2 linked regions of the Homo sapiens genome follow. The protein of the gene in region 2 interacts with the protein of the main gene of each other region in a pairwise test. Each region holds a gene or a part of one and is shown on either strand. Other genes may lie near its edges.

Region 1 (3,749 bases), on a different chromosome or scaffold from region 2:
AAGGAGGGTCACTTGAGCCCAGGAGTTCAAGGTTACACAGAGCTATGATCATGCCACTGCCCTCCAGCCTGGGTGACACAGCAGGACCCTGTCTTGTAAAAATAAATAAATAAGGCCGGGTGTGGTGGCTCACGCCTATAATCCAACACTTTGGGAGGCTGAGGTGGGCGGATCACTTGAGGTCAGGAGTTAAAGACCAGCCTGGCCAACAAGGTGAAACCTCGTCTCTACCAAAAATACAAAAATTAGCTGGACATGGTGGCACATGCCTGTAATCCCAGCTACTCGGGAGGCTGAGGCAGGAGAATGGCTTGAACCTGGGAGGCAGAGGTTGGAGTGAGCCGAGATCGTGCCACTGCACTCCAGTCTGGGCGACGGAGCGAGACTCCATCTCAAAGAAAATAATAACAAAAATAAATAAATAAATAAAATAAAAAGTCTAAGGCCAAACTGCATTTGAAATGCCTTATTTTTACTTTATGATTTGAATCATTAATATTCTAACTAAAATAATTAGCTATTTATTAAAGATTTTCCCCAAACCTCTATGTTCTTTAAACTCATAGAACTGCATTTCTTTAAAAACAGCTCATAAATCAGACTTTCCCTCCGTTACTTCAACCTGTCCACATCAGTGAGGTGTGAGAGCAAGTGCCACTAGCAGCCACATGCACACAGAGCCCTTCTGTGGAGGAGGACACAGTTCTCAGGACATACTGGTATGCAGAATTAGAGGAGCAGGAAGGACACGGCTTTGAACCTGCTAAGCTGGGCAGCAACCCCCAGGGATTGTGTTGGATTTGGCACGGCTTGTGGAACAGGAATCAGCTTCCAATAACCGGTCATCTCGGAGGTCAGGGAAACCCCAGCAATCCTTCCACGGGGGATGAGAGGAGAGACCAAGGCAGGAGCAGAGCAGCTGCTGGTGGACGGGCTCTCAGGGACTGCTTCCAGCTGACATGGGGCCCCAAGCACTGTAGATCCCCTCTTCCCTGTAAATCCAGGCCATAGACCCCATCCCTTATGGCGGCAGACCATGAAGGGACTGTCCTAGTCCAGACTGTGGCTTTGGTAGGGATAAGGGAAGCTGCTACCGGTGTGAAAATCCTGGGACCTGGGGGGCTGGGACCTGCACACCTGCAGGACATGGTCACCAAAGGCTGGGCTGACCCTCCAGCGAAGCTGGTGCCTCCTAAGTAGGTCACTAATCTTGGCCCTGGTATACATTTTTTTTTTTTTTTCTGAGACTGAGTCTCACTCTGTTGCCCAGGCTAGAGTACAATGGTGCGATCTGGGCTCACTGCAACCTCCACTTCTTGGGTTCAAGCGATTCTTCTGCCTCAGCCTCCCAAGTAGCTGGGACTACAGGTGTGCACCACCACACCCGGCTAATTTTTTGTGTTTTTAGTAGAGACGGGGTTTCACCACGTTGGCCAGGCTAGTCTCAGACTCCTGACCTCAAGTGATCGGCCGGCCTCAGCCTCCCAAAGTGCTGGGATTACAGGAGTGAGCCACCATGCCTGGCCTAGTATACTTTTAAAAATTCACTGAGCATAATTTAAGATCTATGCACTTTATTGAATGTTGCTATAATTCAGTTGTTTTTTTTTTTAAGTTTCTGAATCTTCTGGAACCTTGCCCTCAGCTCTGCCCAGGGTCTCATGCCCCGATCCTGACCCCAAAACTGGAGGCCCCTCATCCTCGCTCCACTCCTGGTGCTGCTTCATGGTGCTTCTCCCCTGGCTACATCCCTCTTGTGCCCCTTGGAGCCCTGTTCCTGTGGACAAAGTCCTCTTGCCACCGGGTTCTGACTGCAACTACTGAATTGAAACCTAGGTGTGCCTCAACAATCCTGCTTCTCCAGGAGCCAGAGGGGTGGGAGCTGCTGACTCCCCATCCCACAGGCCCTGGGGTGGAGTGGAATTAGGGTTGGAGTGGTGTCACCTGAGCCCACCCCCACAACGGCTCTCAGCCTTCCGCATGTGCGTGCGTGCTGTCAGCCTGCAGGACTCCACCTGCTCTGAGCGCCCCTGCTGCGGGGACTCCAGACGTGCCTCCACCAACAGCTCGATCTCTGACTCCTCGATTCATTCTCCGGCTCTCACCACATGCCTGGGTCCTCCCTACCATGATTCTTCGCCTCTGAGACCTGGGTATTCTTCTTCCCTATCCGCCTCGACCCCATCGCCCATTCCTGTCATCCATCCCTTCAACCACTGTCCTCTGTCCCAACCACCAGAAAGTCCAGACCCCCGACAATCTAAGATCTCCTGCATGGGGGCTGCTAACAATGCTGGGTCACGATTACTGCCAACGAAGGCAGCCATAACTAGCGTGGCTTAGGACTCACTGCAGCTCCTTAGGAATTTCCACTCCTTTAACCATCATGGTGACCCTATGAGGAAGGCACTTCTTATCCTCTTTTGAAAGATAAGAAGCCTGACGACAAAGGTTAAGTAACTTGCCCCAGACACTCCTCTCTGCCCTGAGCTAGTAAACTGGAAGCTGAGATTTGAACTCAAAACAAATCCTGCTCTGGGCTCCTAACCCCCAGGCTACACTGCAGATAGGCAAAATACCCCTCTGCCTCTCCAACACCAACATGGCTTGCCCCTCCTGACAACCATCCACATTTTCCAAGTAGCTCTTTCTAGTCCCAGGGCAGCAATTTCAAACCTCTGTGTTCTCTTTAAACCTCCTCTCCCATGGCCCTCTGCATCCTACTCCCAGCAGAGAACAATGGCCCCTTAGTTCACAAGGAAATAGAAGGTTTCCCATGGAAGCACCATCAAATCCTGTCCCTGTGCCTGTAAGTTTCTCCATCCCTCCAGCCCAGGGTTTCTCAGTCTATTGCTGGGGGTGGGGACGGCTGTCCCTGCACTCTGGGGTGGTAAGCTCCTGGCCTCTTCCCAACAGCTGCCAGTAGCACCCCCAACCCCCAACTATAACAACCAAGAATGTCTCCAGACATCGCCAGATGTCCCCTGGTAGACAAAACCACCCTGTTGTAAACCACGGCTCTGGCCTTTGTGAAACAAAGAATGCCCTCCTGATGCGGCCAGGCCCCTCTTCAGCTGGGGGGCCTTCAGAATCCTCGCTGGTAGACACAGGAAAGACAAAACCAACCAAGAATTCTTAGGAGATGGAAACCCAGGTTCTTAGGAGGAAGAATACCCGGGTCTCAGAGGAAAAGAATCATGGTAGGGAGGACCCAGGCATGTGGTGAGAGCTGGAGAACTTGAACATGTTTAAATGTCCAAGAATCAAAATCCACCTTCTGACTCCCCTGCCTCTCGTCTCACCCTCCCACTCCAACTCCACACAGTGGACATGAGGTTGTGACATTAGGGCATTCCTCAGCATAAAAACCTCCTATGTCTCTTTATGTTTGTTTGTTTGTTTGTTTGTTTAGACGGAGTCTCGCTCTGTCGCCAGGCTGGAGTGCAGTGCTGTGATCTCGGCTCACTGCAATCTCTGCCTCCTGGGTTCAAGCAATTCCGAGTAGCTGGGACTACAGGCATGCACCACCACGTCTGGCTAATTTTTTGTATTTTAGTAGAGACAGGGTTTCACCATGTTGGCCAGGATGGTCTCGATCTCCTGACCTCGTGATCCACCTGCCTCGGCCTCCCAAAGTGCTGGGATTACAGGCATGAGCCACTGCGCCTGGCTTTTTTTTTTTTTTTTTTTTTTTGAGACAGAGTCTCATTGTATCTGAGGTTGGAGTGCAGTGGCATGATTTTAGCTCA
Region 2 (3,749 bases):
GGAATTCCCTTTCAGCTCCAGCTTTACCCACATCAGCTGCTAGACGGGTACGGGCAAAATCAAGAGGGTACACAAAACACAGGGATGTGGCCCCTGCGGCACCACCCGATGCCAGATTCCCTGCAAAGTAGAGCCAAAACTGGGTTCTCTTGTCCACACCACCCAGGAAGATCTGCTTGTATTTATCTTTGAAGGCGAAGTTAAGAGCCTGGGTGGGGAAGTATCTGATGACATTGGCCAGGTTACCGCGCCAGAAGGACAGAACTCCCTGCTCCTTGGGAATACGGACCACGCAGTCTATAATGCCTTTGTATTGCTTATCTGCAGTGATCTGCTTGCTGGCATGCTGCACCTAACAGACAGGAAGGAAGCCAACAGGGACAGTTATAACCATGGGGAAGGGAAAGAGAAGAGCTTATGCCATCTCGATCAATGCCCTTTAAGGTAGGCTCCCCTCTCTCAAATCTAGTCTTCGTATATCATACTGGCTGGACCCTCCCAACCCTCTGAGGCTGTCACAGGGGAAGAGGTGATCTGCACCAGTAGCATTAAGCCTCCACCCCTCTGAGTGGAGAGGGGGCATCCTCCAGCGGACCCGTGACCTTCAGACCTAGGAGAAAGGTCATTACCTCAAACCCAGGTTCAGAGGCATTAGGGCGAGTCCCACATAGGGCGCGGTCACCTTGGGGACCGCAGCCTACGCCTCAAGTCTCCTGAGCTGCTTCCGTCTCGCTCCGCCCCCACTCCGCTCCCAGAGGTGACCCGAGCGCCGCCGCCGCCAGCCCTACACGCTAGCCCAGGAGCGCCCTCTAGAGCCGGCACTGGAGAGCGCGCGGCGCAGGGAGGCAGGCGGAGACGCGGCGGCAGCGGCCGCGGCTGCGCGGGGGCGGACGTAAAAGGCACACGCGCTTCCCGGCGCCGGCTTCCGGCCCGGCGAGGTTTGAGCGCGTCCGCGGGCTGGGAGGCCGCTGGACCCGGGCGCATGGCCTCCCCCGGGCAGTTATCTCCTTGCCGCGACCTTGAGGTCTTCGGTAAGAACTGGCGTTCCTCTTTCTAACGCCGGCTTTCGGCCTTCGCCCTTGACGCCCAGGCCCGGGGAGGCCGTCACTCAGAAACTGCTCCATCCGAGTCCGCCGCCTCGGAGATGCCGAGAGCCTGGTCCTGCCCTCTGCCCCCGGCCCCTTCCTAGACTCACTACTTCAGGTCACTAAAGGCGCCTCCCACCAGTTTGACTTCTGTTCTGCCTCTGCGCCCCGCTCTGGCCTCTCCTAAGCCGCTTCCCTGGCCATGTCTTTAGAGTTCGCTCCCCGCCACCCCTCGGGCGCCCGCCTTCTGTGCGACCCTTCCCCCCACTTCCTGGTTGGGCTCCTGGATCCCAGGACGTACCTGCAGCAGCAGCTTGACCCGCTCGATGGGCGCTACCGCCGTCTTGGAGATGGCTGCGGCCACTCCACCTGCCAGGAAGTCCTTGGCGAAGGACACAGCGGCATCTGTCATGTTGAAAGAGGAGGCAGACTGCTGCAGGACGGGACTGGGCCGGGAACCGGCTTTGACTCCGGCGCTGCGGGGCGGAGCGAAGCAAATGGCCGATTTATATAGGGGGAGCCGGAGCTGGAGCGGCAGGCGTCGGAGGCGGGGCCGGGGCGGGGTCTGGGCCCCGGCGCGCTGGGCGGCAGAGCCGCTGAGTGGCCCAGCTCGCAGGAGGAGGAGTCGTGGAGGGCGGGCCGGGACTGCTCTCCGCGCCGCCCGTGCTCGCCCTCGGCACCTGACCCGGCGAGAGGAAGGGGCGGGTCCAGAGAACACCCGGGACTTGAACGCTGGACCCTGAGAGAGGCCTCGGAGAGGGGAGGAAGGGTGAGGTCACGATGTGCCTGGACAAAAACCCTTGGAGCAGGACCAGGACTAGGGTGAGACGCATTTGCTACAGGGATGCCAAAAGAACCCTTCAGTCATCGAGATAAACAGTAGTCAATGCGATACTTTAAAAAAGTCGTATGGGCAAACTACATCCTACTGGCCGGCCCCCTTGTTTTGTAAATAAAGTTTAATTGGAGTGTCAAGGCTGGGTTTAGGGTGAGGCAAGCGAGACAAGGTCATGCAAGTGCAGGTTGGGATCCTGTCTGTATTTCAAATGTTGATCATTTGTTCATCATGGATTTTTGCATTGCTTCTGATTTTTTTAAAATAGTACATGAAAAATCATTTGTCTTAATTACTGAGTTGTTTTTCACCAAGGTGAATGCCTCACTCTTCCCACTCTAGACCGTGTGCTGTCCTGGAGCCAGTGAAACCAGACGAAATTAAGGGAACAGCAGACGAAGGAACTGCCACCGTGCCCCAGACCCTGGTTTGCAAATACAGTTCGACAAAGATCTTGCCAGGAATTGGCCTGGGAGAGTCCAAAGGACTGGGCTGGGGGTGGGGAAATGATTTTAGCCAGAAGACAAATATAGAGGTTGTACCCAGAAGGTTAAGAGGCTTAGGAAGGTTAAGAACTACGTTAACATTTGGCTCCCAGGACCCCAGGTAAAGTGCCCTTGGATTGAATAGATTTCTGAACTCCAGAAACATTTAGAGGAATCAATAGAATTAGATTGGCAGCCATTGTGCCAATGGACAAGTGCTTACTGAGCCCCTTAATCCCTTCACTGGGTAAGCATTTGCCACACATGTCCTCAAAAACCTACTTGTTAGCTTAAGTGGACTCCCTCAAGTTCAGAACAGGAGCAAATAGTGTAATCACAAGTTCCGTGTCTGAATAATCATAACAATGTTTATAAAAATAAGGACGACTGTTGAAAACTGCAACTGCAGCTGAACCTTATGTGCCCAGACTTCAGAATTCCCATAGGCAAAATGCCAGCAGGCCTTTGCACACTGAACACATAGTGTTCATATCCTTCACTTTCCTTTCCTGCCCTCTCCTATCTTCTCCAGATCTGCCTGTGAAAGGACCCAATTCTAGGACCCCCCAGGATGGTTAGGCCCTTCCTCTGAAAGTACACTTTGCAATTTGTTAGTCTCCTCAAGAACCCCAGCGATCGAAACTGATGCACACAAATTGCATGTGTTCAAAGGAGCAATTTTGAATCTAGCTTTGTTGATCCTGGGAGAAATCTTTGACCTGTGTTAGTGAAAGGCTATGGTGTTTCTCAGCTGATTATAATAGCGAGGTAGCTGAATGCAAAAAAACAGTTTCAGAGAATGGTAGAGTATATCCTCCAAAGGTGATACTCGCTTCTCTATTCTGGTGAGAGAAACAAGAGCTAAAGCAAAATTCTACAGAGGGCTTTATTTGGAGAGAGGTGGATTTTATTTATAATGCATTTAAAATTCAAAATCTTTCTAGTTTGAACTCTTGACATTCTGATTAATGCATTTTTATTCAACTGTTAATTATTCCTCGATACACCTCGCCATCACTTGTGTATCCCTTTTCTACATGTGACCTTTCCCTGGCCACATCTGCTACTCTCTTTGAGCATGATGCCTCTACTGTATTCTATTCCAGAGCTCATTGTTTTGTCAGTTTTTTTTCTCTCCACAAAAAAAGATGATCAAATAATTACATAGAATTTTTCCCTTCTCAGTCTTTGGGTAACTAAGTGTGGTTTTATTGACGATGAAATACAAGATGGGTCATTTAAAAGCAACTTCTTGTCATCACTTGGTATTTTGCTAAATCCACGGTGAGCTGGAGCTCCCGTAGTCACCTATCACCGCGTGTATTTTAAGGAGTCAGATATTCT

The links. The genes of interacting proteins can lie anywhere in the genome.
Region 1: the proteins of SLC25A5 (region 2) and ADCK2 interact in binary tests that used the Homo sapiens proteins (3 or more experiments, as listed by UniProt).

The regions. Positions count from the first base shown.
Region 1 is NC_000007.14:140,682,944-140,686,692, reverse strand, and holds part of ADCK2 (uncharacterized aarF domain-containing protein kinase 2), read right to left. Parts: intron 1-3,749. UniProt on the Homo sapiens protein: The function of this protein is not yet clear. It is not known if it has protein kinase activity and what type of substrate it would phosphorylate (Ser, Thr or Tyr).
Region 2 is NC_000023.11:119,466,264-119,470,012, reverse strand, and holds the start of SLC25A5 (ADP/ATP translocase 2), read right to left. Parts: upstream 1,570-3,749; 5' UTR 1,498-1,569; coding exon 1,387-1,497; exon of another isoform or gene 893-1,386; intron 353-892; coding exon 1-352.